Linked DNA regions of Homo sapiens. The protein of the gene in region 3 purifies or fractionates together with the protein of the main gene of each other region. This does not show direct contact. Each region holds a gene or a part of one and is shown on either strand. Other genes may lie near its edges.

Region 1 (4,376 bases), on a different chromosome or scaffold from region 3:
ATCTGCATAGTCTTTTATTCGGAACACATGCCGTAAATCAGGGATTGGGATTTTTTTTTGGTTAAGTGAAATGATGTGTGGAGCTACGCCCCAATCTGATTTTTCTCATAATCTGTTCTTGATTTTTTTTTGTTTCTTTTTCTTCTTCTTTTTTTATTTTTTCCAGACAGAGTCTCACTCTGTTGCCTAGGCTGGAGTGCAGTGGTGCAGTCTTGGCCCACAGCAGCCTTTGCCTCCCAAGTTCAAAGGATTCTCCTGCCTCAGCCTCCTGCCTAGCTGAGAATACAGGCATGTGACACCACGCCCAGCTAATTTTAAAGACAAGGTTTTGCCATGTTGGCTAGGCTGGTCTGGAACTGTTGACCTGAGGTGATCCACTCACCGCGGCCTCCCAAAAGTGCTGGAATTACAGGCATGAGGCACTGCACCTGGCCTGTTCTTGATTTTTTTCTTATCAGGCATACTATGCAAATGCCTTGCTTTATATTTTCATTAACTTAGTATTAAGGAGAAATAAAACCAGAACTTCAAGGACGTTTTTATATGTACTAATAAGAATTTACTTACTTTAATTGATAGAATTGAAAAAGGGAGAACAAAATGATAATGTAAGACTGAAGACTCAAAGGAGTTATTATTTAAATGTAATTTTAATAGAGTTTAAAAGTTTGGTAATCTAGTTAAAAGACCCAATCACCAGTGGTTATTTTTGTGCTATAAATTGCATGTCTTTGAAAATGTCAAAAAAGCTTCTTGTTACTGATTTTTAGGATAGTTGAAGTTGGAAGGAAGAAACATAGTGGTATTTCTGCAGGGATGAAAGATAAGTTCATTTCTACCTAAATATAAATACAATTGTCTGATTAATCATAAGACCACTGAAAACCTTATTCTAGGAATTAATATTTTTTATCTTAAGAATTTCATGTCATTACCAATTGTGATAGGAATTCTAGGCAGTATTTCTCAAACTTTAGGCCAGAGTTATTTCAGAAAATCCAAAAATCTCCATGTGCACTAAGCATTATTTGTGGGTGCTGTTGTGATTTAGTAAAATATGAAATCATTGGACCAGCTTCATGGTAACTTTTTGTTACACAGTTTTATAACCAATAGCTATTTGAACAGATCATCGAACGTTTTAGACCATACTCACCAATAGAAATGTAATATGAGCTACATATAAATTTAAATGTTCTTGATACCACATTATAAAAAGGAAGAAATACGTAAGATTGATTTTAATAATATATTTTATTTAACCCAGTATATTCAAAATATTCAACATGTAATCGGTATAAAATTATTAAAGTGATATTTTATATTTTTTACACTAAATTTTTGAAAATTGGCATGTTTTACATGTACGACACATCTTACTTCTGATGCTAAATAATTACACTGAAATTAAATAGTAGTAAAAATTAGGTTCCTCAAGTTGCCCTGGCTACATTTACGTGCTTCATAACCTTATGTGGTTAGGGGCTGCCATTTTCTACAGCTTAGTTTTAGAACTTAAAGAGGAGTTCCCATATACAGTAGATTGGGAGCCACTGTTCTAGATCAAGTCATCATTTTTACTTATTGGTTTGCTCAAGTTTTCACTTATTAGTAGCAAAACATAGAAGATTTCCAACACATTACTTTAAATATTAAATTATTTAATTGCAATAGAAAATGAAACTGGCATAAACAAATTTGAGAACAAACATAGTTGACTCTTAATAAGCATAAAAAGCATAAGGCTCAGTTTGTGGGAGCAAAAGTGTGAGGGTGTGCAAGAATGAAGCCTCTTGATCTGGACCATTTGGTCTTCCATGGGCGTTAGATATAGGAATACATGGCTTTGGTTAATACTATGAGGCAATTCAGTGGAGGTCAGTTAAGAGAGATGATATCATACTTAGTATATTATAATTAGCTGATTTTTTTCCTACCTTATGCTGGACTAATTTTCTAGAGCAGTTTATATGATACTTACTTCTGTATCCCTACAGACACTGAGGGATACTGTATCTCTAAGCACTTAGCATAGAACCTGACAAATAGATGTTTAGTGAAGATTGAATAAATATCTTGCAGTATTTGCTTGTTGTTGTTATTTAAAATAGTGTAATAGGAATGAGTAATTGTGGGTATTTATATATAATACTAATATTTTAATTGTGTAATAGTTTATGCCTATGTGAGGTTTTAAAAAGTGTATTTTGTTGTGGTAAATAACCTAAGAATTGTTGTTCATAAGGGGTTGCAATTACTTGTCCTAAGACTTGACCCTGCAATAGATTGAGTGAGCACCAGATTATGGGCCAGTTTTAACTAATGAGTCTCAAATTGAGGAGCACTGCGGTATCATTAAGCCTGTAGCTTTTAACTGGTTTCCAGACTTCAGAATGCTGTTTGATAGTATTTTATTAGAATGCTCTGGCATTCATGGTGTACTTTGCTGTTTTAAGACTTCTGACTGGTGTTCCTAACACATTACCCTGTTTAGGCAAGCAGTTTGGGCATAGATTTATTGTCGTTGCTTTTGTAGCATAATATGGCTTCATTTGCGGTTTTAAGGATAGTTGCTACCTTCCATCTATTATGGCAATGTTTCTTGTGCTGCTAATAAGAGAGATTCTGGTGTCATCTACCTTGCTTGCTACCTTTCCGGTGACGTCAAAAGGAGGCATGTGATAGATACGTGCCTTCCTTAACTCTCACTCTTTTTAATGTGATTGGTACAGGATAAAAATGAATTTTAATAACCTTTTTAAAAATTTATCAAGGTTTCATGCTTTAACATGTTGCTACATACTTTCTGATATTGTCCACATTTCTGGTATTTATTCTCTCTCCTGATTTTTTTCTTTCACCACTTGTAAACCCATAAGTTTTTCTGTACTATGGATATTTCATTGACTATGTTATTCCTATAAGGTATATTGAAGATATCACTTGGCTTGTAAAATCATTCCATTGATGGCATGTAAATGATATTCAGGGTTTACCTGCCTGTTAGTTGGCCAGTTTTGTCCTAGAATGTATCTAATCTCTTGTTACATGGAAGTGATGCTTACTATTATGTGGCTTTACCCAAGCCAGTATTTATAGAAATGAGTGAAAATGAAATGTATAAAAGCAGGTTAAGCTTTATTAACTTTGGTACACTATGCCAAGCATATTTCCAGAGAGGCTGTAACAATTGACAGCCTCACCAGCAGTATTCAAGATTCCCATTTGTCTCACATCCTCCTGAACACTTTCCATTGTCTTTTTAATTTTAGCCAAACCAGTAGATGTGTAATGGTATCCTATTGTGATTTTTATTAATATTTCTTTAATACTAATGATGTTGCACACTGTTTTATGTGCTTATTGAGCATTTAAATATCCTCAAAAGAAATGCCCACTCAGATTATTTGCCCATTCTTTTATTTGGTCATCTTTTTCTATTGATTTGTTGGAGTTCTGTAGTTTTTTGGATACAGTTTATTATTGTTGTTGGATATATGAATACAAATACCTTCTCTTTGTGGTTTGCATTTTCACATTCTTAATGACATCTTGTGGACATAAGTTCTAACATGTTTCTTTAAAATTTACAGTGAAATACAGAAATTGTATGTGCATAGTTAATTTTGATAAATTATAGTACAGAGAATTTTGGTAAAATTATGCACCTATTTACCTCAATTAAGTTGGAGAATATTCTCATCACCCCAGAAAGTTTCCTTGTGCTTCTTTCAAGTCAACTCCCATCTCATGTATTATTGTTTGCATATCTATTACTGTAGCATAGTTTGGCTTGTTCTTGAATTTCAGTTAAATTGAGTCACTTAATGAGTGACTTAATGGAATCTTGTGTCTGGCTTCTTTTATTCAAATTGGTATTTTTGGGATTCATCTATATGTGTGTATCAATAGTTCAATTTTTAAAATTCTAAGTAGGTATTATATAAATATAACACAGTTTGTTTATTTATCTACTGTTGTTGCACGTTTGGATCATTTCCAGTTTTGAGATCTAATGAATAATGCTACCATAAATATTCTTGTTACACGTCTTTTTGTGAGCATAATTTGAATTCTTATCTAGACTCTATTCCATTGGTCTAATCTTATAGTAGTACAAAATTGTTGTAATTATCACAGCTGTATAGAAAATTTTGAAACCAAGTGGTGTAAGTTTTGCTCATTCTATGTTACTTGCATTTACGTGTAAATTTTAGAACCTGCTCTTCAATTTTACAAAACACCTGTTTGGATTTTGATTGAAATTGCATGGAATCTAGTTTGATTTAGAGAAAATAGATGCCTTCTAATACATACACATGGTATGTCTCACCATTTACTTAGGTCTTTATTAATTTCTCTCAGAAGTGATTCGG
Region 2 (5,119 bases), on a different chromosome or scaffold from region 3:
GAGACCTCTGTCGGCCAGAGAACAGCAGTCAAGGTAGCCAGAGACCCTGGTTGAAAGACTTCACCCGCTGACTAGAAATGTGGTCAGGGACTGACGTAAACAAGAGTCTGGCCACGTTTTTGTAGCGTGGCTGTGCTGTGCTGAGGTACCTCTTCCACCCCTTGTCAGCTTGGGCTCTCCAAAGCCCGCAGGCCAGAATGGCTAGTCACCAAAAGAGCAAAGGTGGGGGCCTGCCCCTCTCCGGGAGCTCTGTCCCAGGAACATTTCACATTTCCATTGGCCAAGGAATGCTGGTGGGGGTAGCTGGAGGCCCCAGTTGGGAGGTCCTGTCCAGTGAGGTGGAACAGGATCAGGGGCCTGCTTACAGAAGCAGTCTGGCCATGATTTGGTAAAGCAGCTATGCTGTGCTGTGGGATCTCTTCTGTCCCTCGTCGGTTTGTACTCTCCAAAGCCCGCAGGCTGGAATGACTAAGTTGCCTGAACGGGAAAGATGGCGGCCTGCCCCGTCTTTTCTCTCAGAGTTTTATCTTGTTTCGTGGAGCTTAATTTTTAGCCTGTTGATTTTACTGTCTACATTAGACTTGTTGAGAAAGAATCTGTTCTCTTTTAGGTGAGATAAATGAGAATTCATTGTCTTCTGTAAATAAACCTGTTCATGTCTTGTTCTCTGGAAAGAAGTCTCTTTCAGCTATCTGACTTTGGTCACAATCATGTAGAGCAGCAGCCAGTCTACAATGACGTAATTGAATTTCCATTTCCAGTGTTTCCTCGTTGTGTCTTACATTGTCCAGTTCAGAACTGAGCATTTTATTCTCAGTTGTCAACATGCTAAGCTGTCCACTGTACTGAAATACTGTGCTTCCTCAATTTTTTTTAAGGTGTGCACTTTTATCCAACTCTCCTCAAGTCAGAGTACAGGTAAGCCCTGGCTGCCTCCAGCCACTCTCAGGGAGACCAAAAGCCTTCATACACCCCAAGTTGGGGTACAAAAGAGGGGGGCCACGAAGGCTGATCATTCAAAATAAAACAAAATTAAAAAGTATTAAGGCGAAGATTCAAAAAATTTTGCATTATGTAATTTGCACAAAAGCAATGCTATCACCTCCCCTGTGTGAACTAGGGAGAGGACTGGGCCATTCTCCTTAGAGAGAAGTGGGATGGCTTTTAGCAGGGCAAGGGGCTTCCTGAAACAATGCGTCTCACAATATTTGGAATGACTATTGAAAAGAAGAACAATGTACAATCAAAGTCCTTGGCAACATTGTAGAACTTTGGAGGAAGCTTCCTCCAACCGACTGCTGTCACCTTCACCATTCCGGTTTTTAAATCCTGAGTCAAGCCAATAAAAAACAAAACAAAAAATGAAACAAGAAAACAAATAAAGCCATGCCAATCTCATGTTGTTTTCTGAGAAGTTTGGTTTTGTCAAGAAAGGGTGTAACGCAACTAAGTCAGAGTCCACCTAGAAGCATTTGCGGTGGACAATGGAGGGGCCTGACTCATCATACTCCTGCTTGCTGATCCACATCTGCTGGAAGGTGGACAGCGAGGCCAGGATGGAGCCACCGACCCACACGGAGTACTTGCGCTTGGGAGGAGCAATGATCCTGATCTTCATCATGCTAGGCGCCAGGGCAGCGATCTCCTTCTGCATTCTGTGGGCCATGCCAGGGTACATGGTGGTGCCGCCAGACAGCACTGTGTTGGTGTACAGGTCTTTGCGGATGTCCACATCAGACTTCATGATGGAGTTGAAGGTAGTTTCATGGATGCCACAGGATTCCATGCCCAGGAAGCAAGGCTGGAAGAGCGCCTCGGGGCAGCGGAACCGCTCGTTGCCGATGGTGATGACCTGGCCATCGGGCAGCTCGTAGCTCTTCTCTAGGGAGGAGCTGGAGGCCGCCGTGGCCATCTCCTGCTCGAAGTCCAGGGCAACATAGCACAGCTTCTCTTTGATGTCACGCACGATTTCCCGCTCGGCCATGGTGGTGAACCTATAGCCACGCTCGGTGAGGATCTTCATGAGGTAGTCAGGCAGTTCCCGCCCAGCCAGGTCTAGGCGCAGGGTGGCATGGGGGAGGGCATTCCCCTCATAGATGGGCACAGTGTGGGTGACCCCGTCACCAGAGTCCATCACGATGCCAGTAGTACGGCCAGAGGTGTACAGGGACGGCACGGCCTGGATGGCCACGTACATGGCTGGGGTGTTGAAGGTCTCAAACATGATCTGGGTCATCTTCTCGCGGTTGGCCTTGGGGTTCAGGGGGGCCTCGGTCAGCAGGATGGGGTGCTCCTCGGGAGCCACACGCAGCTCGTTGTAGAAGGTGTGGTGCCAGATCTTCTCCATGTCATCCCAGTTGGTGATGATGCCGTGTTCCATGGGGTACTTCAGGGTCAGGATGCCTCTCTTGCTCTGGGCCTCCTTGCCCACATAGGACTCTTTCTGATGCATGCCCCCCATCATGCCCTGCTGCCTGGGGCGCCCCACGATGGAAGGGAAGACAGCCCGGGGGGCATCGTCGCCCGCAAAGCCGGCCTTGCACATGCCAGAGCCGTTGTCAATGACGAGCACGGCGGTATCATCATCCATGGTGAGCTCATTCAATTGTAGAGCCTTTAAAAGATTATCATTCTTTTTTTTCACACTTTCAATATCCTCCAAATATTTCTTTTCTCTTAGCTGGCTCTGATGTTTCATTGTGTCTAGCTCCAGTCTTAGCATGGCAATTTCTTCCCGCAACGTACTATTTTCATGCAAGACGTCTTTTTCTTTCTTACAACTAAGAGAAAGCTAAGTAAACAAAGAGAACTTTTAGTTAGCACTCAATAGATTGACATATCATGATTTCTTCTGAAATTCAAAAATAACATGTATTTGTATAATGAAAGAATCCCCATAGTGGATATTTAACTGGAAAAAAATTGGACAAAACTTCAAACCTAATAAGAGTGTAAATTCCTCCAGTGATTTATTTTTCATCGTCTTTAAATAAATATTTAAACTTTTAGGAATCTGCTCCTAAATTCCTAAAAGTTTAAATATTTATTTAAAGACGATGAAAAATAAATCACTAGAGGATTTTTAAGAATCCCAGAATTAAAAAAGCCTTTTTCTGAGTTACAAAAAACCCAGAGGCATAAAATATAAGATTAATAATTTGACTACATTTTTAAGATTAGGTTTACACTCTGATATCTAACCTATCAACCACACCATCCTAAGAGCCTTAGCTATGCATATATTTGGACAGAAGCAATTTCTCAAAGTTCTTTAAGTTTCTTTTACTGAAGAACGTTTTACCGATATTCTACATTTCTAATATTTCTATACTCAGTTATAAGAATTACATTTATTTATAACTGTCAAATCTAAGCACTGTACCCTTCTACACTGTACACATCTGTATCTAGGCATTGCTCTTCTACATATAATACTGAACTCATTTAAGATCGCGATTCTTAAAAGGAGAGGTCAAAAAATATACACAGATGCAGGATTTTCCCCAGGTCTGCTGATGCTACTTCTAGTGATCCTCCACAAAACCACACTTACTTCTGTGGTGTAAATATATAAATACAAAAGAAACCTTTTGTTTCAAAATATGAATGGTAAATAAGATACAACTTATAGAGATCTTCTTAGAAATCATGAGATTATTTGCCATTGCGGTAACTTTTATTTCCTCTTTATAATGTTTGAAACAGTAGTAATGGTGAAATAGGGGAAATATACTGAACTATTTCTCCAGAAACAAAATACTTATCAATAAATTATTACTAAATGTGTATCATGGCATGTCATTGTTTTCAAACCTCTTTACACTGAAATGAGAAACTACTTGGAGCAAACTGTTCCTCTCTGCAAAAGTAAGGATAATGGTATCCACAATGTGGCCTCTGACCCAGCTATACATTTCCTACTTTCTTATCAGTAAAAATAATCAATTGACTTCTCTATTAACATTTTTTAAAAAACTAATGTCCAAAAACGAGAAAATCTGTTTTCAGTAGCAAAACTTATTTCTGATGTGGAAAGATCATCAATTCTTATGAAAAACATCAAATACTTCTCCTTTGGATTGAGGCCATTGTGCAGGTCACTACTCAACTGTTGCAGGCAAATGAAGGTGAATTAAGAACATGGCTTTATCCTATACGTACGTATATAGATATATGACAAAGGATATATAGAATATATACACACATATATATGACTTAAAAATCCTTTATATTTCCAAAATACAGTTCTTTAAAATATACACACATATAAAAACATTTGAAAATAACTAAAGAAAATACCTCAGAATTCATTTTTTCAACCACTTCTATCTGCTTTTCTTCATGAATCAGAATCTCATCGTGTAATATTCCAGTGTTCTGTTCTTCACAAAATTGCTTCTGAGTATCATTTTGTTCGTCACTAGAAGAAATTTTAATTTTCATGAAATACTGGAGCTGTCCCTAAAATGATGTACAGGGCAAGATGGCGCCATCAGATGTCATTCACACAATGCATATCTGCACATTATTCCAAGACAAGGCAAAGGGGTCTCACATCTGTTAACCAGGTGTCCCCAACCATGCTGGCACCAGGGACTGGTTTTGTGGAAGATAATGTTTACAGGAACCTGAGGTGGGGGATGGTTCCAGGATGATTCAAGTATATTACATTCATTGTGCACTTTATTTCTATTATTATTAATATATAATGAAATAATTATATCTCACCAAAATGTAGAATCAGTGGGAGCCCTGAGCTTGTTTTCCTGCAACTAGATGGTCCCATTTGGGGGTGACGGAAGATGGTGACAGATCAGAAAGGCATTCGATTCTCATAAGGAGTGAACAACCTATATCCCCCTGCATGAGCAACTTACAACAGGGTTCAGGTCACACTCAGGACAATCTAATGCCACCGCTGATCTGACAGGAGGAGGAGCTCGGGCGGTAATGCGAGCGACAGAGAGTGGCTGTAAACAGATGGAGCTTCACTTGCTCACCTGCCTCGAACCTCCTGCTGTGTGGCCCAGGTCCTAACAGGCCAGGGACTGCTAATGGTCTGTGTCCTGTAACCCATACTCTTTATGTTTATTGTTTGGAAACACTTTCTACTTATATT
Region 3 (3,214 bases):
CCACTGTCCCTCTGCCCGGGGAGGACCCAGCTAAGCCCCGTCTGCAGACCCCAGGCCCCGCGCGCGTGGGCAGTTCTGGGGGGAGGCCCGGGGCAGGGTCGCCGAGGGAGGGGTCTGGGGCTGCACCGCGGCCTCGGGAAGGGCCGGCTGTGGGCGGCGGCGAGTGTCCAGGGCGCCGAGGAGTGACCACCCCACCCCCGCAGACCCCAGCGCCTGGTGAACGTGGTGCTCGGAGCCCACAACGTGCGGACGCAGGAGCCCACCCAGCAGCACTTCTCGGTGGCTCAGGTGTTTCTGAACAACTACGACGCGGAGAACAAACTGAACGACGTTCTCCTCATCCAGGTGGGCGGGCAGGGCCGCGAGGGCTCGGAGGGGCACGGCCAGAGGGCTCCGGGACCCCCATTCCTGCAGCCAGCATTCATTGAGCACCCACTGTATACCGGGCCACGACCGAGGCCGCTGCAGCCTGGGTCCAGTGGCACTGGCCGGGGGAGACCGCTCCTTGGACACCAGGCCACTCCTCCTCCCCGCCTCTCCCCCGCCCGCGCCTCTCCCCCGCCCGCGCCTCTCCCCTGCGCGCCTCTCCCCCGCCCGCGCCTCTCCCCCGCCCGCGCCTCTCCCCCGCCCGCGCCTCTCCCTTGCCCGCCCCTCTCCCCTGCCCGCGCCTCTCCCCTGCATGCCTCTCCCTTGCCCGCCCCTCTCCCCTGCCCGCGCCTCTCCCCTGCGCGCCTCTCCCCTGCCCGCGCCTCTCCCCCGGCCGCTCCTCTCCCCCGCCCGCGCCTCTCCCCCGCCCGCGCCTCTCCCCTGCGCGCCTCTCCCCTGCCTGCCCCTCTCCCCTGCCTGCGCCTCCGCCCGGTGTGCTGTTCCCCCAGAAAGCCAGGTGCCCTCGCCTCCTCCGGCGCCTCCCCTGACCTCACTGGAAGTGGCGAGGACAGCCACAGCCCTCCCCGATTCACTGTTCTCCACTGAACCGCGTGCTCCTCTCATTCATGGGGCCCTCCTAGCCTCCTCCCACCCAGAAAGATCAGCTCCCCAGGGCAGAGGATTTTTGTCTGTGTTGTTCGTTATTGGACTCATGTGGCTTAGAACGGGACTGGGCATACAGGTGGTGCTCAGTAAGTGCTTGGGGCTGGGCACTGTGGCTCACGCCTGTACTCCCAGTACTTTGGGAGGCTGGGATGGGAGGATCACTTGAGGCCAGGAGTTTGGGAGCAGCCTGACCAACCTAGTGAGACCCCATCTCTATAAAAGACATTTTTTTTTTTTTTTTTTTTAGACAGAGTCTCACTCAGTCATCCAGGCTGGAGTGCAGTGGTGCAATCTCGGCTCACTGCCACCTCTGCCTTCCAGGTTCAAGTAATTCTCCTGCCTCAGCCTCCTGAGTAGCTGGGATTACAGGCATGCACCAACACGCTTGGCTAATTTTTGTATTTTTAGTAGAGACGGTGTTTTGCCACGTTGGCCAGGCTGGTCTCGAACTCCTGACCTCAAGTGATCTGCTCTCCTCAGCCTCCCAAAGTGCTGGGATTATAGGAGAGAGCCACCGCGTCCAGCCTACAAAAGAAAAATTTAAAAATCAACCGGGCATGGTAGCACACGCCAAGCCACTCATGAGCTGAGATGGGAGGATCACTTGAGCCCAGGAGGTTGAGGCTGCAGTGAGCTGTGATCATGCCACCACACTCCAGCCTCGGCGACAGAGCAAGACCCCATCTCAAAAAAAAAGTGCTTTGAAGATGAATGAATGGGCCAGGGGCGGTGGCTGTAATCCCAGCACTTTGGGAGGCCGAGGCGGGCGGATCGCCTGAGGTCAGGAGTTTGAGACCAGCCTGATCGATATGGCAAACCCCGTGTCTACTAAAAATACAAAAATTAGCTGGGCGTGACGGCAGGTGTCTGTAGTCCCAGCTACTTGGGAGGCTGAGGCAGCAGAATTGCTTGAACCCAGGAGGCAGAGGTTGCAGTGAGCCGAGATTGTGCCACTGCACTCTAGCCTGGGCAACAAGAGCGAAACTCCATCTCAAAAAAAAAAAAAAGAAAAGAAAGAAAGAAAGAAAACATGAATGAATGGCCGGGCACTATGGCTCACACTTGTAATCCCAGCACTTTCGGAGGCTGAGGAAGGCAGATCACTTGAGGTTGGGAGTTTGAGACCAGGCTGGCCACCTCACCCAATGGGATGGCTCCGGGAGGTTCCAGTGAGCCGAGATCACGCCACTGCATTCCAGCCTGGGTGGCAGAGCAAGACTCCATCTCAAAAGAAAGAAAGAAGGAAAGAAAATGAATGAATACAATAGTGACAAATGGGACAAAGGGGGTCGTGGGGCCCAGGCGGAGGGAGCGGCATCCGCGGCGTTTTGAGGTGGTGGGTGTGGTGGGTGTGGTGGGAGGGCGGCCCGGGCGGCCACCGTGACCTGGAAGCAGCGTCTCACCGCCGCCTGCCTTCTGCCCCAGCTGAGCAGCCCAGCCAACCTCAGTGCCTCCGTCGCCACAGTCCAGCTGCCACAGCAGGACCAGCCAGTGCCCCACGGCACCCAGTGCCTGGCCATGGGCTGGGGCCGCGTGGGTGCCCACGACCCCCCAGCCCAGGTCCTGCAGGAGCTCAATGTCACCGTGGTCACCTTCTTCTGCCGGCCACATAACATTTGCACTTTCGTCCCTCGCCGCAAGGCCGGCATCTGCTTCGTAAGTAACCGTGCCCCCACCCCGGGCACCGGGCTGCCATGAGGGGAGGAGGGCGGCGGCCAGGGTTCCACGCCACCTCTTAGCTGTGTGGCTTCATGCTGTGCCTCAGTCTCCCCACCTGGAAGGTGGGCACACCCAACACCCAACGGGCAGGCTCAGCGGGGTGGGGGCGCTCACATTGCACCTGGCTGCTTGGGTGGGTCTGGGGGTTCCCTGCCCCCCACTCCCCTCTAGGACCACAGGAAGGTGTGGGAGACCCATCCGCCCTCACCGGCGGCCCCTTCCAGAATCCAGGACTCCAGGTATCCAGCGGGAGGCCCATAAATGCCCAGTTCCTACGAAAGACCTCAGCCCCTCCCTGCTCACACTTTTTGTTTGTTTTTGAGACGGAGTGTCGCTCTGTTGTCCAGGCTGGAGTGCAGTGGTGAGATCTCAGCTCACTGCAACCTCCACCTCCCAGGTTCAAGGTATTCTCCTGCCTCAGCCTCCTGAGTAACTAGGTGCACAGGTACCTGCCACCGTGCCT
Region 4 (4,376 bases), on a different chromosome or scaffold from region 3:
GAAGTATTCCTATTAGCTTGATTCCTTGTTTTTCTCACCAGGTACTTCTGGAAAAATACAAATATGTGGAGAATTTTGGTCTAATTGATGGTCGCCTCACCATCTGTACAATCTCCTGTTTCTTTGCCATAGTGGCTTTGATTTGGGATTATATGCACCCCTTTCCAGAGTCCAAACCCGTTTTGGCTTTGTGTGTCATATCATATCCTTTATTTATGCTCAGGTTGTTTTCTAGTGACTATTTTTTTAAATCTGCTGATATTTCTCCCTACAAAAAACAAAACGGACTTTCATATTAGGGCTTGCTAATGTTAGAATTCAACATTTTGAGCTGTGATGTTTATATAGTAAATATCTATCAGTTTATATAGTAACTGTCACTGATATTTTATGTTTTGTATGGTTATTTTATCGTAATTCATTTTTGTTATTAATGTAGAGGTTATTGTCCTAATATGAGCACTTAATAGCAAAACACATAGTAATAGTGAACCCAGCTCTTCTCATTTCTAGCCCAGAACTTTTCCCGTTAGACGTGGCTGCTTCAAGCCACTCATTCTAGGATATTAGGAAAGGATCTGATTTTGGAGACTCAGATCTGTATTAAGTTTACTTGAAGCTGAGGAGCTGAACTGGAAAGTACTGAGCATGAGATACAAGTGTGGCTTGTATTACAGTGGAATTAAGAACTTATTCTGGAGCTAGAGAATATGGGTTTGAAATCCAAGGTATCTGTGATCTTGTGCTAATGAAAATTTACTTATTTTTGAGATGATTTGAATACCACTCATTTATAAATATGGGTAGCATTCAGAATTATCATAAAGATTAAATGAGAGATTTTATATTGTATTTGATACATAATCATTTCCTTTCCCCTCTTTTTTATGATAAATGTAAGATCATGGTCGTTGCCTACCCAGCGTGATTTTTTTTCTCAAGAAGTTGAATATAAAGAACTTAATTATACTTCACTATTAAAATAGGTAATTTTGGTTGGTAGTTTACTTTTTTAAACAATGTTACCACTACCTAAATTTTGTTTTGTTTTCTTTTTTTTGAGACAGGGTCTTACCGTGTCACCCAGGCTGAAGTACAGTGGTGTGATCATGACTCACTGCAGCGTCAGCCTCCTGGCTCGAGCAATTCTCCCACCTCAACCTCCTGAGTAGACGGGCACATGCCACCATGTCTGCCTAATTTTTAAATTTTTTACAGAGACAAGGTCCTACTACGTTGCCTAGGCTGGTCTCAAAACTCCTGGGCCCAAGCAATCCTCCCAAAGTGCTGGGATTACAGGCATAAGCCACTGTGCCCAGCCAACCTGAAATATGTTTTAAAACTTCATGTTGGGGATTTATCTTCAGAGGCAGTTAGCAAACCTCTGATAAAGCAGATCCTAGTCAAAAATTGTATTATCCAGATTGCCCCACATTTCCCCCAGAAGTGGCACCAGGTGATCCTTGACTCCTTTCAGTAATCAGATTAATCATCCCAGTATGAATTTTTCACTATTAAGGCAGTTCAGAAGAATAATATTCCATAGGTTCTAGAGACAGTTCCCAGGGGAATTCCAAAGAGATTTGAAAATGATAGCAACATTATTACAAATATCTGGCCTCCCAAGAGAACTACCTTGATGGTAATTCATTTGTTTGGTTATATTTGTTTAATAAAACAAGGTCTTATTTTTGTCATGTCAGTTTTATTTATAATGTAGGGACTACCATTATAAATGTCTTCTGTTGCTGGGCATCGTGGCTCATGCCTGTAATCCCAACACTTTGAGAGGCCAAGGCGGGCGAATCACTTGAGCCCAAGAGTTCAAGGCCAGCCTGAGCAACTTGGAGAAATCTGTCACTACTAAAAATACAAAAATTAGCTGGGCATGGTGGCGCATGCCTGTAGTCCCAGATAGTTGGGAGGCTGAGGCACAAGAATCACTTGAATCCAGGGGGCGGAAGTCACAGTGAGCCGAGATCTGCTACTGCACTCCAGCCTGGGCGATAGAGCAAGACTCTGTCTCAAAATAAATAAATTAATTAGATAAAATAAAAAATAAATTAGCTGGGTGTAGTGGCACACACCTATAATCCCAGCTACTGAGGAAGCTGAGATGGGAGGATTGCTTGAGCCTGGGATGTTGAGGCTGCAGTGAGCTGAGATCATGCCACTGTACTCTAGCCTGGGTGACAGAGTGAGACCCTGTCTCAAAAAAAAAAGTCTTCTGTATCCTAGACTGCATATATCCTTCATCTCTAAATCTCATGATAATTCTAAAACATCAGTATTATCCCAATTTTAAAGGTAAGGATACTAAGACTTGGGGAAGGAAGTTATTTGTTACAATCATACTGATTAAAGGCCAAGATTTAAATCTAGGATTATCTCTACTCTAAAGTCCATATACTTTGTACTATATTTTCCTGCCTTTCCTGTTCATGAAATTTATCTATTTTTTAACTCTTCTTTAATGGAATGCTTCATGAATTTGCCTGTCATCCTTGTGCTAGGGCCATGCTAACCTCTGTATCGTTCTAATTTTAGTATATGTGCTGCCGAAGCGAGCACTGTTCATGAAATTTATTTTTATTTTATTTATTTTATTTTTATTTTTTGATACAGGGTCTCACTCTGTTGCCCAGGCTGGAGTGCAGTGGCACGATCTTGCCTCACTATAGCCTCTGCCTCCCAGGTTCAAGTGATTCTCCTGCCTCAGCCACACAAGTAGCTGGGATTACGGGCCTGCACCACTACATCCAGCTAATTTTTTTTTGGTTTTTGTGGGTTTTTTTTGTTTTTTTTTTTTTTTGAGACAGAGTCTTGCTGTGTCACACAGGCTGGAGCACAGTGGCACGATCTCGGCTCACTGCAACCCTGCAACCTCTGCTTCCTGGGTTCAAGCCATTCTCATGCCTCAGCCTCCTGAGTAGCAGGACTACAGGCATGTACCACCATGCCCAGCTAATTTTTGTATTTTTGGTAGAGACATGGGGTTTCACCATGTTGGCCAGGCTCATCTCGAACTCCTGACCTCAAGTGATCTGCCCACCTCAGCCTCCCAAAGTGCTGGGATTACAGGTGTGAGCCACCACGCCTAGCCTTAATTTTTGTATTTTTAGTAGAAATGGGGTCTCCCATTGTTCCTTGTTGGCCAGGCTGGTTTCAAACTCCAGGTCTCAAGCAATCCACCTGCCTCGGCCTCCCAGAGTGCTGGTATTAAAGGTGTGAGCCATCGTGCCCAGCCTTGTTTATGAAATTTAAATGGCACAGTATACACAAAGCTCTTATGCCAGTTTTTGGCAAACTATAAGTGCTTATTAACTATGGTACTTAATACTGTCAAAAACAATATAATAATAAGTCTATATGCATATAGGAAGTAATCGTAGTACTATTTGACATACTCTCTTATAGTAAACTATTTGGGTCACTTTTCTTCTCTTAATAACCCTTAAAATCAGTTGAACATGGTCAAGTCCACTGGGACTATTCGTTGTTTTTTATAAAGAAATAAGCACTATTATAACAAAGTCTTGACAAACTAGGTATCTTATTATACATGTTGTCTTTGAACATAAAGATGAGAGCTAGTTTATGCTCTGTATCTTTTTCTTTTCTTCCTTTCTGAGGTGTTTGCAGAATTAACCAGAGAGAGCCTTGCTTCTCTTGGTATATAAACATAAGGATGAAAATGAAATAGCTAAATTTTCAGTGTTTTGGCAGCAAGACAAAGCTGTCTTCTTTAGGACTATCATTATGAAAGTTTTTATATCTGTTGCTTGTCAATTTGTGTTACTTCTCTTTTATGTTTGGGTATTTTCCCCTTAACTTTATTTGAACCTATTTTGTGATGATGGGGATTCTGACCATTTATACCTCATATAAGGAGAAGAGCATCTTTCTCGTGGCCCACAGGAAAGATCCTACAGGAATGGATCCTGATGATATTTGGCAGCTGTCCTCCAGTCTTAAAAGGTATGACTATCCTCACAGATTTTTAAATCCTGGTGTTGGATTTGCCCTGGCATGTTGTCATTATCAACAGAAGACTTATTATGTGCCTACTCTATGTGGATCATAGGGCTAGTCATATAAAATGAAGAAAGGAGTATGGATGATCTAGAAGGTTTGTCCTAGCCCTATAGTTCTGAGATTGCGTTATCACAGAAATGCTCTGAGGATAAACTGTGGGAGAAGGTACTTTTTCCTGTGGCCAGTTAACAGAGACGATTAAGCATACAAAAGTATAAAGGCCAAAGATGTGAGATCAGTTATCTTTGAAGAATTCCATTAGCTTCTGTGTCTTCTATGATCCTGTCTTCTCTCCACGAATACAATCAAGAATATCTGGAGCAGTGCACTGGGCAACTCAA
Region 5 (4,376 bases), on a different chromosome or scaffold from region 3:
TTACACTGTAGTGTGCATTTTACAATTCATGAGAGAAAATGTTAAGACTTTGAAGTCTCAAACCTTGAGTTTAATTTTAAATGAAAGATCTTGTGAGTACAATATGTTATGAACTATATAGATAATTTATTGAGAGAACTGTATAGAAGCCCATAACTCTTTTTATCATTTGTTCATTGACAATATTTATTGAATCCCCATATGTCAAGCACAGTGCACATTACGGATTTAGGGATGTGGTGGTTAGTAAAACAGGTACGGTTTCTGCTTTTACTAAATGTGCAGTCTAGTGCATTACAGACACAAATCAAGTAATACAAGTCTGTAATTATGAGTTTATGTAAGAGCTAGAAAGGGAAAGAAACCTGGTCTTATAAGAGCCTATAACAGAGGGACCTAATATAGAATAAGGAATCAGGAAATGACCCTTCATTTCCTGAGAGCTTTTAAGGAAAAAATTACTTAGTTTTTCTAGTCAAATCTCAATACTTGTAGGATAAAGTCCAAGTCTCTTAGCTAGTACTGATAGAATTCATTATTCATACAATAAGTATTTTAAGACATTCCTGGCCGGGCATGGTGGCTCATGCCTGTAATCCCAGCACTTAGAGAGGCTGAGGCAGGCAGATCACTTGAGCTCAGGAGTTCAAGAGGAGCTGGGGCAGCATGGCGAAACCTTGTCTCTACTAAAAATACAAAAGCTAGCTGGGCATGGTGATGTGCACCTGTAGTCCCAGCTAGTCAGGAGGCTGAGATGGGAGGATTGCTTGAGTCCTGGAGGACAGAACTGCAGTGAGCTGTGATTACACCACTGCATTCCAGCCTGGGTGACAGAGTTGAGACCCTGTCTCAAAAAAAAAAAAAAAAAGACATTTCTTCTTTTACTGTAAAAACTATATTTTAAATAGTTTTCACTATAATAGTAATACCTTATAGTAGAATAAAAAATAAAAATCACCTGTAAACTTAACACCAGGAAATAACTGCTGTTAATTTTTTGACATATTTCCTTTTTTTTTCTTTTTTTGAGACGGAGTCTCGCTCTGTCGCCCAGGCTGGAGTGCAGTGGCGCGATCTCGGCTCACTGCAAGCTCTGCCTCCCAGGTTTACGCCATTCTCCTGCCTCAGCCTCCCAAGTAGCTGGGACTACAGGTGCCCGCCACCACGCCCGGCTAATTTTTTGTATTTTTAGTAGTGGCGGGGTTTCACTGTGTTAGCCAGGATGGTCTCGATCTCCTGACCTCATGATCCGCCCGCCTCGGCCTCCCAAAGTGCTGGGATTACAGGCATGAGCCACCACGCCCGGCCGACATATTTCCTTCTAACGTGTGTTAAAAACTTTTTTGGATCAAATATTAATATTTCTTTTTCTTTTTCTTTTCTTTTTTATTTTGAGACAGAGTCTCACTCTGTTGCCCAGGCTGGGGTGCAGTGGTGCAGTCTTGGCTCACTGCAACCTCTGCCACCTGGGTTCAACCAATTCTCCTGCATCAGCCTCCTGAGTAGCTGGGATTACAGGTGCCTGCCACCGCGCCTGGCTAATTTTTGTTGTATTTTCAGTAGAGACGGGGTTTCACCATCTTGGACAAACTGGTCTTGAACTCCTGACCTCGTGATCCACCCGCCTCAGCTCCCAAAGTGCTGGGATTACACGCGTGAGCCGCTGTGCCTGGCCTTTGTATATTTTCTTTTGATTGACATGATTTTTATTGGGTGCATATTAGTCCTCTGAGTGGATTAATTTACAAGTATTTCCTGCAGTTGGGCATTAAGGTAACTTCCAGTTTTTTTAGCTTCGTAAATATAGTATACATTTCATGCAAATTTTTGCTTGCCTGTGGATATATTAAATTTTTCCTCTTTGGTAAACATGTAAACTTGTTTCTAGAGCACTGATTTTCAAACCTAGTAATTGTCATTTGACTGACCTCCCCCATGAATTAGTGTATGAATTGATACTGCATTTAATTTTAAAGAGGAATTAGTAAGAAGCCTCAGATGAATCATAGATTTATTATTACTATCTTAAAACATAATTATTAGTTCATATTAGTTCATAATGTCACTGAAGGAAAAAATCTGTTGCCTTTCCATACAGTTTGACTAGAATTAACTCTAGTACTCTAGCAGTACTTCCAGGTGTTTAGAGAGCAATGTTGCTGTTAGATTGCATCATACTTAGCTTATATAAGAAGTCAACTTAGAGTAAGAATAATTCTTCTGAAAATGTCTTTGACTGAGACTTGACAGTTTTCATTTACTGATGTTGAGCATGTTGCTACTCAAAATTCAGTTCTCTTTTTAATAGGCCTTCTTGACCATTGGATTTAAAGATTGGTGACTAGTTTTAAGACCTGTCACTTATACTTAAAGTTGACATATTTACTTGCAATTTCTTGTCAGCTGTCCATTAAAACTTGTTTTAGTTTCATGAACCAAGTTACCAAATAATATTTTCTTTTTTTGTTGGGGGCTGGGGGGGTAAATCGGAATTCCTAATATATTTAAAGGAAAAGTTTATTTAAATAGGTCAGTTATTGTGGGTAGGAGAGAGATGATTGGTTTCATAATTTTATTTATTTATTTATTTTTGAGATGGAATCTCACTCTGTCGCCCAGGCTGGCGTGCAGTGGCGCGATGTCCGCTCACTGCAACGTCCGCTTCTATGTGATTTTTGTGCCTCAGCCTCCTGCGTAGCTGGGATTACAGATGTGTGCCACCACACCGGGCTAATTTTTTTTGTATTTGTGCTGGGCTGGTCTTGAACTCCCAACCTCAGGGTTAGGAATTCAAAGGGCTGGAATTACAGGCATGAGCCACTGCACCCAGCCCATAATTATCTTTAATAGTATCATTTTAGTCTGTCAGTTTTTATTTGTGCCCCAAATTTGTTTTATTCGTTTTATTAGAGATTCATCAATTCTTAATTTACATTTTATAGAAGGCAGAATGCTTTTGTTGGGTAAGCAATAGATATAAATGAATCAAAACCTAAGAATTCTTGAATGAAAGAAGATTATTTCTCTTACCCCATATCCATAAATTAAGCTAGCAATACTAAATGTACTGAGTCCTCTCTGGTCAAATTGTTAAAATATAAAAAATACCTTTTTAAAGAAATTACATAATAATAGGAAAAAAGGTGTGCTGTTGTATTTAGAAGCTTTCTCCCTACTTCCTAGGTTTATTTCCAAAGTTGAAGAAGTCTTGAATGACTGGAAACTGATTGGAAACTCTTTGGGAAAGCCACTCGAAAAGGTCAGATCTATTTGCTGGTGTCTCTAAATGACTATTTACTTTGAAACCTCTATTTTCCAGCCCTTTGCTGCATTTGGCACATTTGAATTAAATGTTTTTTAAAGTTACGTATAATCTATAAACATCAAATAGCATTTGGAAGAATTTGGATTTAAATCTGTGGCAAATGATATATGTAAGACATTTGTGAAATGTTTAATAAAGTTATATATATGTGTGTGTGTATATATATATATATAAAATGTCATTCTTTGTGAGTGATTCTTTGTGAGTGAAGTTTGCTTCTCTTTTGCCTTCTCCCTTGGAATGTTAAAACATGTTTTTAAAAGTTTTTTATTTGGTCAGAGAAACATTGCAGTGACCATCTTCTTTGGTAGCATATTTTGCTTACTAATGAGGAAAATTCTAGTACTTACCATTGACTTACTGTAGTTAACAACTATTTCACTCAGTTTTTGTATTTTATAATATCACTAATAACATCCCCCTTCCCTTTTAAGCTTTTTAACTTATGGATGTTTTAAGGATTTTATTTAAGAATGAAAAAATTACTCTTTGAAATTGAGGTAGAAATCAAATTCTAATCTAAAGTATTGGTAGTTTTATTCATAAACCACACCCCAAATGTTTACTGAAGAATGTACTCTGAGAACAAACCTGGATTCACTGTGAAGGGATCTAACAATTTGATTTTAAGTTTATGTAGATGCTTAGTTTGTTAGATAAATTCTTTTGAAATAAAATTTATGGTTGGTTTTATTACAACTCAATATTACTAACTCAGTGATAACTTATTAACTCAGTAATTATTAATTCAATAGTAATTTAATTATAATTTACCCTGTGTTAGGAACTTTGAGTTCTCAATATTTGCTAGGGGTTTTCAGCTTTGTGATGGTGATACTATCAAAAAAGAGACTGTCAAAATGCATTAGGAAGCCAGGCAACATGGTGAGACCCTGTCTCTTAAGGAAAAAAAATCTCCTTATTTGTATCAATATGAACAGAAAAAGTAAGACCACATATAAAAAATACATCATTCAAAGACTCTTGGCAATATATACATTGATTTACTACACTACATGTGTGAATAAAGAAAATGTGACGCTTTCAAACA
Region 6 (4,376 bases), on a different chromosome or scaffold from region 3:
TCTCAGCTCACTGTAACCTCCGTCTCCTGGGTTCAAGTGATTCTTATGCTGCAGCCTCCCAAGTAGCTGAGATTACAGGCATGAGCCACTATGCCTGGCTAATTTTTCTATTTTTAGTAGAGATGGGGTTTCACCACTTTTTTTTTCTTTAAATGATGGCTCAACTGTGGCTGGACATTAAAATCACCTGGGAAGGCCAGGCACAGTGGCTCATGCCTGTAATCCCAGCACTTTGGGAGGCCAAGGCGGGCAGATCAGTCGAGGTCAGGAGTTCGATACCAGCCAGCAAGATGGTTCAATAACAGCCGTCTCTACGAAAACTACAAAAATTAGTTGGGCATGGTGGTGCATATCTGTAATCCTAGCTACTCGGGAGGCTGAGAAAGGAGAATCGTTTGAACCTGGGAGGTGAAGGTTGCAGTGAGCCGAGATCGTGCCACTGCACTCCAGCCTAGGCGAAAGAGCAAGACTCCATCTCAGAGGGAAAAAAAAAAAATCACATGGGAAGCTTTTAAAAATACTGACAATGTGCCTCTACCTTACAATGGCTGGAGATAAGGCCCAAGTGTGAGGTTTCTTTCTTTTTTTTTTTTTTTGGTTTTTTTTTTTGTGAACAGAGTCTCACTCTGTTACCCAGGCTGGAGTACAGTGGTGCGATCTCGGCTCACTGCAAGCTCCGCCTCCTGGATTCATGCCATTCTCCTGCCTCAGCCTCCTGAGTAGCTGGGACTACAGGCGCCCGCCACCACACCCGGCTGATTTTTTTGTATTTTAGTAGAGATGGGGTTTCACCGTGTTAGCCAGGATGGTCTCAGTCTCTTGACCTCGTGATCCACCCACCTCGGCCTCCCAAAGTGCTGGGACTACAGGTGTGAGCCACTGCACCCGGCCAGGGTGGGTTTTTTTTTTTTTTTTTTTTTAAAGCAATCCAGATGATTTCAAGGTGAGACCCAGTTTAAGAATCAGTGCTCTCGGCCGATGGCCCAAGCCTGTAGTCCCAGCACTTTGGGAGGCTGAGGAGGGCGGATCACCTGAAGATGGGAGTCAAGACCAGCCTGACCAACATGGAGAAACCCCATCTCTACTAAAAATACAAAATTAGCCGGGCGTGGTGGCACATGCCTGTAATCCTAGCTACTTGGGAGGCTGAGGCAGGAGAATAGCTTGAACCCGGGAGACAGAGGTTGAGGTGAGCCGAGATCCTGCCATTGCACTCCAGCATCCAAGAACAAGAGCGAAACTCTTTCCCCGCCAAAAAAAAAAAAAAGAAAGAAAGAAATGTTGTCTCAGTTCCTACCCTTTTCAATCAGAATATGCATTTTGATAAAATCCCCAAGTGATTTGTTTGCACATTAAAGACTGTGGGAGCAGTGCTTTGAGCCAGTAGTTCTCAGTGGTGACCAAACATTAGAATTACTTTTTTACTTGAGGAGTTTTTTTGTTTTGTTTTGTTTTTTCTTTTTTCTTTTTTCGAGACAGAGTCTCGCTCTATCACCAGGCTGGAGTGCAGTGGTGCAATCTTACTCAAGGAGTTTTTAAACAATTGATACCTTGGCTCCCCCTCAGAGAGATTCTGGGGTAAGTCTGGCTATTAGTGTTTTTAAATAAAAGATTTGACCGGGCACAGTGGTTCACGCCTGTAATCCCAGCACTTTGGGAGACTGAGGCGGGCAGATTACCTGAGGTTGGGAGTTCAAGACCAGCCTGACCAACATGGCGAAACTCCGTCTCGACTAAAATTATAAAATTAGCTGGCCGTGTTGGTGCATGCCTGTAAACCCAGGTACTCGGGAGGCTGAGACAGGAGACTCACTTGAACCCGGGAGGCGGAGGGTGCAGTGAGCTGAGATTGCGCCATTGCACTCCAGCCTGAGCAACAAGAGGAAAACTCCGTCTCAAAAAAAAAAAAAAAAAAAAACATTTAAAAGTGCAGCCAAGGCTGAGAAGCACTGCACTAGCCCAGTTGCAGTGCTGCTTTTGCTGTCCCTGGGGCAAGAGGTAGAACTCCAAAGCTTCTTAAAAGTAGGACAGCAATGAGTAGAGAAATATTTTCTTAAATAAATGAACTATACATAACATTTTTCTGGCAATTTTGCAGAAGGATCTAATATAAAACAATATTGACACATTTTCATGGTTTCTCTCCTATAGGCTCAAACTGTCCAGGTTGCTGAAGTTGAACCACAGTCACAGCCACAGCCTTCCCCAGAACTTCTGCTTCCAAATTCTTTGAAGCCAGAAGAAGGGCTTGAAGTATGGAAAAACTGGGCCCAGACCAAGAATGCTGAACTAGAGAAGGATGCTCAGAACAGATTGGCACCCATTGGGAGTGAGTGTCTTGGAAGAAGAGTGGGCTGTGTCTAAAATGCAATGGTACTAAAGTAACAGGAGGACAAAATGCCAGAAAAGTGGTGTCTCCTGTCTTGGGGACAAGAGAGCAACATCTGTAATAGTATGTTGAATTCAAGCCTAGTAACAAGCAGTACTGACCTTGTGTACATAATAAGCAGGATATGTGGGGTTTGCCCAAAACCAGGCATTTTTAGACATACGGGTTTCAGGAGTTGACCCTACCAGACCTAAGCAGAGTGGCTTCTGGGAGGAAATGGGAACCAGGGATAGGCACTCAAGCCCTTCTTTCTTGGCATTAGGCTCATATACTCATGTTATAGGCCAGTTCTGACATTACAGGCATGAAACATTCTAGTAGATACAAGTGAGCATTTCTATCCCAGCACCCTGATGGGCAGTATCTGTTCTGAGCCTTCCAGATATGGACCCCCAGGACCTTCATTCATTTTTGAGGCTTCCGTTGCAGGGCGCCAACTGCTGCGATTCCAGGAAGATCTCATCTCCTCTGCTGTGGCAGAGTTGAATTATGGGCTCTGTCTAATGACACGGGAAGCTCGAAATGGAGAAGGTGAACCCTATGACCCAGATGTGCTCTACTATATTTTCCTGTGTATTCAAAAGGTAGGAAACAGATCTTCACAAGAACATGTTTGAGCTGTGTTCCTATTGGATGTTTGCTAGTTTAGTTAATAAATTGATAAGCAAGAAGTTAAAATAAGGAAGTTCTCTTTCAGGTATACAGTGAGTTTTAAAATACACATTTGTTGTTTTTTTTTTTTTTTTAAGTTTTAAAAACCTACACGTTCACTTTAGAAAATAACAGCCGGGGCCGGGCGCTGGTGGCTCACGCCTGTAATCCCAGCGCTTTGGGAGGCCGAGGCAGGTGGATCACTTGAGGTCAGGAGTTGAAGACGACCAGCCCAGCCAACATGGTGAAACCCCATCCACTAAAAATAGAAAAATTTGCCAGGTGTGGTGGTGCACTGCCTATAATCCCTGCTATTTGGGAGGCTGAGGCATGAGAATCGCTTGAACCCGGGAGGTAGAGGTTGCAATGAGCTGAGATCACAGCATTTTACTCCAGTCTGGGTGACAGAGCGAGACTCTGTCTCAAAAATTAAAAAAAAAAGAAAAGAAAAGAAAAAAAATAAGAGCCAGGCAAGATGTCTCACACCTGTAATCCCAGCACTTTGGGAGGCTCAAGGCAGGAGGATCGCTTGAGCCCCAGGAGTTTGAGACCAGCCTAGGCAACATAGTGAAACCCCATCTCTACAAAAAATTAGCTGGGTATGGTAATGCATGCCTGTAGTCCCAGCTACTTGGGAGGCTGAGGTGGGAGGATTGCTTGAGCCCCAGAGGTTGGGGCTGTAGTGAGTCATGATTATGTCACTACACTCCAGCCTGGGTGACAGAGTGAGACCCTGTCTGAAAAACGAAAAGAAAAAAAATTAGCTGGGTGTGGTGGCACACACCTGTAGTCCCAGCTATTTGGGAGGCTGAGGCAGGAGGATCCCTTGAGCTCAGGAGTGCGAGGCTGCATTCAGCTATGATTGTGCCATCACACTTCAATCTGGTCTACAAAGCAAGACCTTGCCTCTTAAAAAATAAATACATAAAATAAATAATAAAATAGGAAAACAAACATTATTCATCCTACTACCTAAACTTCTATTACATTATTGGTAATTACCTTGACTTTTTTTTTTTTTTTTTTTTTTTGTAATTCACAAAGCATTTATGTAACACTTTTCTTTTTGTTAAACCTGATTTTCATGAAGGTAATTTATTCAAAACAGAGTCTTGTGCCAGCATAGAGGTTTTCTTCTCATTGTTCCCTGCACTAACTACTTATTTGAAGGAGTCTAGCTAGAATAATATACCAATGTAGTTAGGTTTTCAGGACATCTGTGGTGAAGCATAACAGAAATTTGCAGACTGGCAGTTCAAGGGAGCAGAGGTGGATTTCTTAGTGTTTGAAGGCTCTTGAGGAGAAACCCACAGTATAATAGAATAGGGCTTACTGG
Region 7 (4,376 bases), on a different chromosome or scaffold from region 3:
TTATGTTTTGTTTTGATTTTATTTTTTTTAAAGCATCTCAATATGCTTATCTCCGTAGAGAGAAGCTAAAACAACTGATTGAGAAGAGGATTGGCAAAGAGAATTTCATAGAGAAACTAGGATTTATTAGCAAACATGAGTTGTATTCCAGAGCATCTCAGAAACCCCAGCCAAACTTTCCCAGTCCAGAATACATGATATTTGATCATGAGTTTACGAAGCTGGTAAAAGAACTTGAAGGTAAGACTGAAGATTTATATTGATATTTGATGGAAAGTAATTATATTTATATTGTACATGTATATTCTGGATGCATACAGGTTATATGGTAACTCTAAAGGTATATTTTCTTCCTAGCTCTTGATCTGTAGCCCATTGAAGGACATTTGGCTTTCAGTAGGATTGAAAAGATTATTTCTTACCTATCATGGAGTTAGGTTATATGTTTTTACTAAGTCTTAGTAGTAAAATAGTATTTAAAACATTTAAAACAAATTTTAAATAAGCTTCCTTTTATAGGTGTTATAACTAAGGCTATTTATAAGTCCAGTGAAGAAGATAAAAAAGAAGAAGAGGTGAAAAAAACATTAGAACAGCATGACAATATTGTGACTCACTACAAAAATATGATTCGAGAGCAGGTAAGTACTAATGAACTGTATATACCCTCTGATTACCAATAGGCACTTTCTGCTTTAAGGGAGCCTTTTTTTCTGACATTTCAAATGAAAGAGGATATAGAAAGCAAAACCCATCATTTTTCAAAGCATCTGAGTATTCAACAAACAGAGTGCTTAATATGTGCTAAGCACCATGCAGCTGATTTATTAGATAATGATGAGTGGATAAAGATGAAACTACAATTGCGGAATCATCAGTTGACATTTTCTTTCCAGGATACCAGTGAACTTTCATTACTTGCATTGTGTTGAGTACCCTAAACCTTCATTATATTCCTTCAAAATGTTTTCTTGACTTTTACTCTCATTTAATTTCTTATGATATTTACCTTGATTGGAATTCTAGAAAGTGCTGAAAAATGAGGTTATTAATGTTGTTAAAATTCCAGTGTCATAAAAAAATACAATAGTGGCAGACCCTGTGGGACAGATTCATCCCCTTCCCTCTACTGCTCTCCACACCTGTCTACTAATTGTGCACAGTTTATGGCAGGTGTGGCAAGTAAAAGCATAGATAGAACCCTTTAAATTGACAACTGTTTATATCTTATTTTCTTCCTCACAATCTACATTACTGAGATTAGTTTGTTTTTTGTTTAGACAGAGTCTTGCTCTTGTTTCCCAGGCTGGAGTGCAGTGGCGCAGTCTCGGCTCACTGCAACCTCCGCCTCCCAGGTTCAAGCAATTCTCTTGCCTCAGCCTCGCAAGTAGCTGGGATTATAGGCGTGTGCCACCACGCTGCCTAATTTTTATATTTTTAGTAGAGATGAGGTTTCACCATGTTGGCTGGTGTTGATCTCCTGACCTCGGGTGATCCCTTCCCTTCCCTGCCTCAGCCTTCCGAAATGCTGGGATTATAGGCATAAGCCAGCGCGCCCAGCCTACTGAGATTAAAATTTTAAGAAAGAATGAAAATATTGTGGTATATTTAGCATTCATTCTAAGCTTTTCAGTTTAAAAGTAAATCAATCAATAAATTATAATCTTAGAATGGTAAAATTTGAATCATCAAACTACCTATGGTTATTAGGATTTTTCATCTATATCTGGGTACAAAGATGGAGCCATTTCCAGTTGCTAAAATGTAATAATATCTTTGGAACAGTGAAAAAAACAAATAGTTGTAATGTGATATAGAGTCTATACTTGGGGCTGCAAATACAGTTGATTTGGCAAAAGAAAAGAGTGATTGACACAATTACTCTAATGACTTCCTTAGAAATGTTCATTTTAAATATTCTTACCATTTAAAATGCTATTTGGCATTAGTCCACAAGCATCTAGAACTATAAAATGTTTATATCCTTTGAATGACATTTGATAATTCATCCTAAGGGAATTCTCCAAAATTCAGGAAAACAATTATATGGACTAAAATATATAATGTAATGAAATTTGTCACTTTGAAAAATGGAAAGCAATATTAAGTAGATGCAATACAATTTATATTCAGTGTTTTTGATGCTGAGGTTGCTTTCCATTTTTCTTTTTCTTTTCTTTTTTTTTTTTTTTTTTTTTTTTTGAGACAGTTTCGCTCTTGTTGCCCAGGCTGGAGTGCAGTGGCTGAGCACGGTGCCTCATGCCTGTAATCCCAGCACTTTGGGAGGCCAAGGTGGGCAGATTACCTGAGGTCGGGAGTTCGAGACCAATCTGACCAACATGGAGAAACCCTGTCTCTACTAAAAATACAAAAAATTAGCTGGGGATGGTGGCACATGCCTATAATCCCAGCTACTCAGGAGGATGAGGTAGGAGAATCGCTTGAACAACCTGGGAGGCGGAGGTTACAGTGAGCCGAGATCGCACCATTGCACTCCAGCCTGGGCAACAAGAGCGAAACTCTGTCTCAAAAAAAAAAAAACCCAAGAAAAAAAGAAAGAAAGAAAAGAAAAAAAATGGAAAGCAACCTTAGCATCAAAAACATTGAATATAAATTGTATTGCATCTACTTAATTAGATAGGATTAAAAATTATGGTTTGAAAACTATGTAGCAATATGGGGAAATTATGATAGAATGTTAAGTAAATTAAAGGCTACATAATTATATATATATACCTATTGTGACAAATTTTAAACCATGGATTGGGAAAAAATTAGAAGAAAATAAAGAAATACATAAAATTCTGGCCGGGCACGGTGGCTCACGCCTGTAATCCCAGCACTTTGGGAGGCTGAGACCGGTGGATCACCTGAGGTCAGGAGTTTGAGACCAGCCTGGCCAACATGGTGAAACCCCATCTCTACTAAAAATACAAAAACATTAGCTGGGCATGGCAGCGGGCGCCTGTAATCCCAGCTACTCAGGAGGCTGACGCAGGAGAATTGCTTGAACCTTGGAGGCAGAGGTTGCAGTGAGCTGGATTGCACCACTGCACTCCAGCCTGGGCGATAAGAGCGAAACTCCGTCTCAAAAAAAAAAAAAAGAAAAAAAATACATCAAATTCCAACTATAGTTTTATTATGATGGTAAAAGTTGGAAGCTCTTTTTTCAATTTCCTATATTTATTTTCTCATTGGCTTTTAATATTAAAAATAATATAGAAGCATATGTATACATACATATACTAAATTTCTTAAATAGTTTGATGTAAATTTTTAAATGGTTTTATGACCATAAAATGGAGTTTTTTCATTTTATTTCCCACTATAATTGCAGGCTATGCCATGATGTTTATTAATGGAGCCTTCTTTGAAATCTTGTAGTTCTGCTGCATGTTAATTGGCCTTGATGGATATATTAACACACCAAGTTGCTTAATTACTGAACGATTTTGGAAGTGTTAAGCACTTTAGCATACTGTCCCAAAATGACCTCTAATTTTTAAAATGTGTTCACCTTCTTAATGCTAACGAGTATGACTTTAAAACACATGAATTATGTTTTGTTTCACAGGATCTCCAACTTGAGGAATTAAGGCAGCAGGTTTCTACATTAAAATGTCAAAATGAACAGCTCCAGACGGCAGTCACACAGCAAGTATCACAGATCCAGCAGCACAAAGACCAGTATAATCTTCTTAAAATACAGCTAGGTAAGCATAGCTAAGCCATCACTATGATAGCACTCAGGTCATTCTTTCCTCAAGAGCTAGACAAAGTAAAAGATTCTTTCTGTGGACTAGTATTTTTCTAACCTTAATCATGGTGACAAAAATGTAAATCGGAGTTTAAAGCAAAATAGCATGATAGTTAAGAGCAGTTAAGACTGGACCTTTAGAGATTGAAGTCCAAGCTTCTTGCTACCTGTTTATCTGGCCCATTGATTCTCAACCCTGGCTGCATATTAGAATCTCCTGAGATGCTTTTTTAAAAAAAAATACCAATGCTGATACCACAATAGTGTTTCTGATTTAATAAATCTGGGATTAGGTCCAGGGATCAGTAACTAGTATAAGCCCACCAGGTGATTCTAATGTATAGCTGATTAAGAATGACCGCTGTAATCTTTCAGTTTCCTCTTCTGCAAAATGAAGATAGTAATAACATTTGAGAACTAAATGATATAATAAATGAAAAATTTAAGTTGTGCCTGGAAAATGGCAAGAGCTCCACTGCTTTTAAATAGTATTATCCTACGGTGCTTGTGAAGATTTTTTAAAAGGATTTTATTTTCTCATATTCAGTTGACAGAATTGGAATTAAAATTACTGTAATTCTTAATCATAGATCACCAGACCATGCAGTTTAGTCAAGGC

The links.
Region 1: the proteins of PRTN3 (region 3) and LYPLAL1 purify together in Homo sapiens (affinity purification with mass spectrometry; one large-scale study listed by BioGRID and IntAct). This does not show direct contact.
Region 2: the proteins of PRTN3 (region 3) and POTEE purify together in Homo sapiens (affinity purification with mass spectrometry; one large-scale study listed by BioGRID and IntAct). This does not show direct contact.
Region 4: the proteins of PRTN3 (region 3) and SPCS2 purify together in Homo sapiens (affinity purification with mass spectrometry; one large-scale study listed by BioGRID and IntAct). This does not show direct contact.
Region 5: the proteins of PRTN3 (region 3) and RAB3GAP1 purify together in Homo sapiens (affinity purification with mass spectrometry; one large-scale study listed by BioGRID and IntAct). This does not show direct contact.
Region 6: the proteins of PRTN3 (region 3) and QRICH1 purify together in Homo sapiens (affinity purification with mass spectrometry; one large-scale study listed by BioGRID and IntAct). This does not show direct contact.
Region 7: the proteins of PRTN3 (region 3) and USO1 purify together in Homo sapiens (affinity purification with mass spectrometry; one large-scale study listed by BioGRID and IntAct). This does not show direct contact.

What each region holds. Positions count from the first base shown.
Region 1 is NC_000001.11:219,179,852-219,184,227, forward strand, and holds part of LYPLAL1 (lysophospholipase-like protein 1), read left to right. Parts: intron 1-4,376.
Region 2 is NC_000002.12:131,261,027-131,266,145, reverse strand, and holds the end of POTEE (POTE ankyrin domain family member E), read right to left. Parts: intron 4,421-5,119; coding exon 4,300-4,420; intron 2,792-4,299; coding exon 1,463-2,791; 3' UTR 868-1,462; downstream 1-867.
Region 3 is NC_000019.10:843,690-846,903, forward strand, and holds part of PRTN3 (myeloblastin precursor), read left to right. Parts: intron 1-203; coding exon 204-345; intron 346-2,457; coding exon 2,458-2,688; intron 2,689-3,214. UniProt on the Homo sapiens protein: Serine protease that degrades elastin, fibronectin, laminin, vitronectin, and collagen types I, III, and IV (in vitro).
Region 4 is NC_000011.10:74,965,722-74,970,097, forward strand, and holds part of SPCS2 (signal peptidase complex subunit 2), read left to right. Parts: intron 1-41; coding exon 42-202; intron 203-3,843; coding exon 3,844-3,978; intron 3,979-4,376. UniProt on the Homo sapiens protein: Component of the signal peptidase complex (SPC) which catalyzes the cleavage of N-terminal signal sequences from nascent proteins as they are translocated into the lumen of the endoplasmic reticulum.
Region 5 is NC_000002.12:135,054,828-135,059,203, forward strand, and holds part of RAB3GAP1 (rab3 GTPase-activating protein catalytic subunit), read left to right. Parts: intron 1-3,183; coding exon 3,184-3,259; intron 3,260-4,376. UniProt on the Homo sapiens protein: Catalytic subunit of the Rab3 GTPase-activating (Rab3GAP) complex composed of RAB3GAP1 and RAB3GAP2, which has GTPase-activating protein (GAP) activity towards various Rab3 subfamily members (RAB3A, RAB3B, RAB3C and RAB3D), RAB5A and RAB43, and guanine nucleotide exchange factor (GEF) activity towards RAB18.
Region 6 is NC_000003.12:49,045,022-49,049,397, reverse strand, and holds part of QRICH1 (transcriptional regulator QRICH1), read left to right. Parts: intron 1-2,151; coding exon 2,152-2,329; intron 2,330-2,818; coding exon 2,819-2,973; intron 2,974-4,376. UniProt on the Homo sapiens protein: Transcriptional regulator that acts as a mediator of the integrated stress response (ISR) through transcriptional control of protein homeostasis under conditions of ER stress.
Region 7 is NC_000004.12:75,800,560-75,804,935, forward strand, and holds part of USO1 (general vesicular transport factor p115), read left to right. Parts: intron 1-58; coding exon 59-240; intron 241-519; coding exon 520-641; intron 642-3,574; coding exon 3,575-3,713; intron 3,714-4,376. UniProt on the Homo sapiens protein: General vesicular transport factor required for intercisternal transport in the Golgi stack; it is required for transcytotic fusion and/or subsequent binding of the vesicles to the target membrane.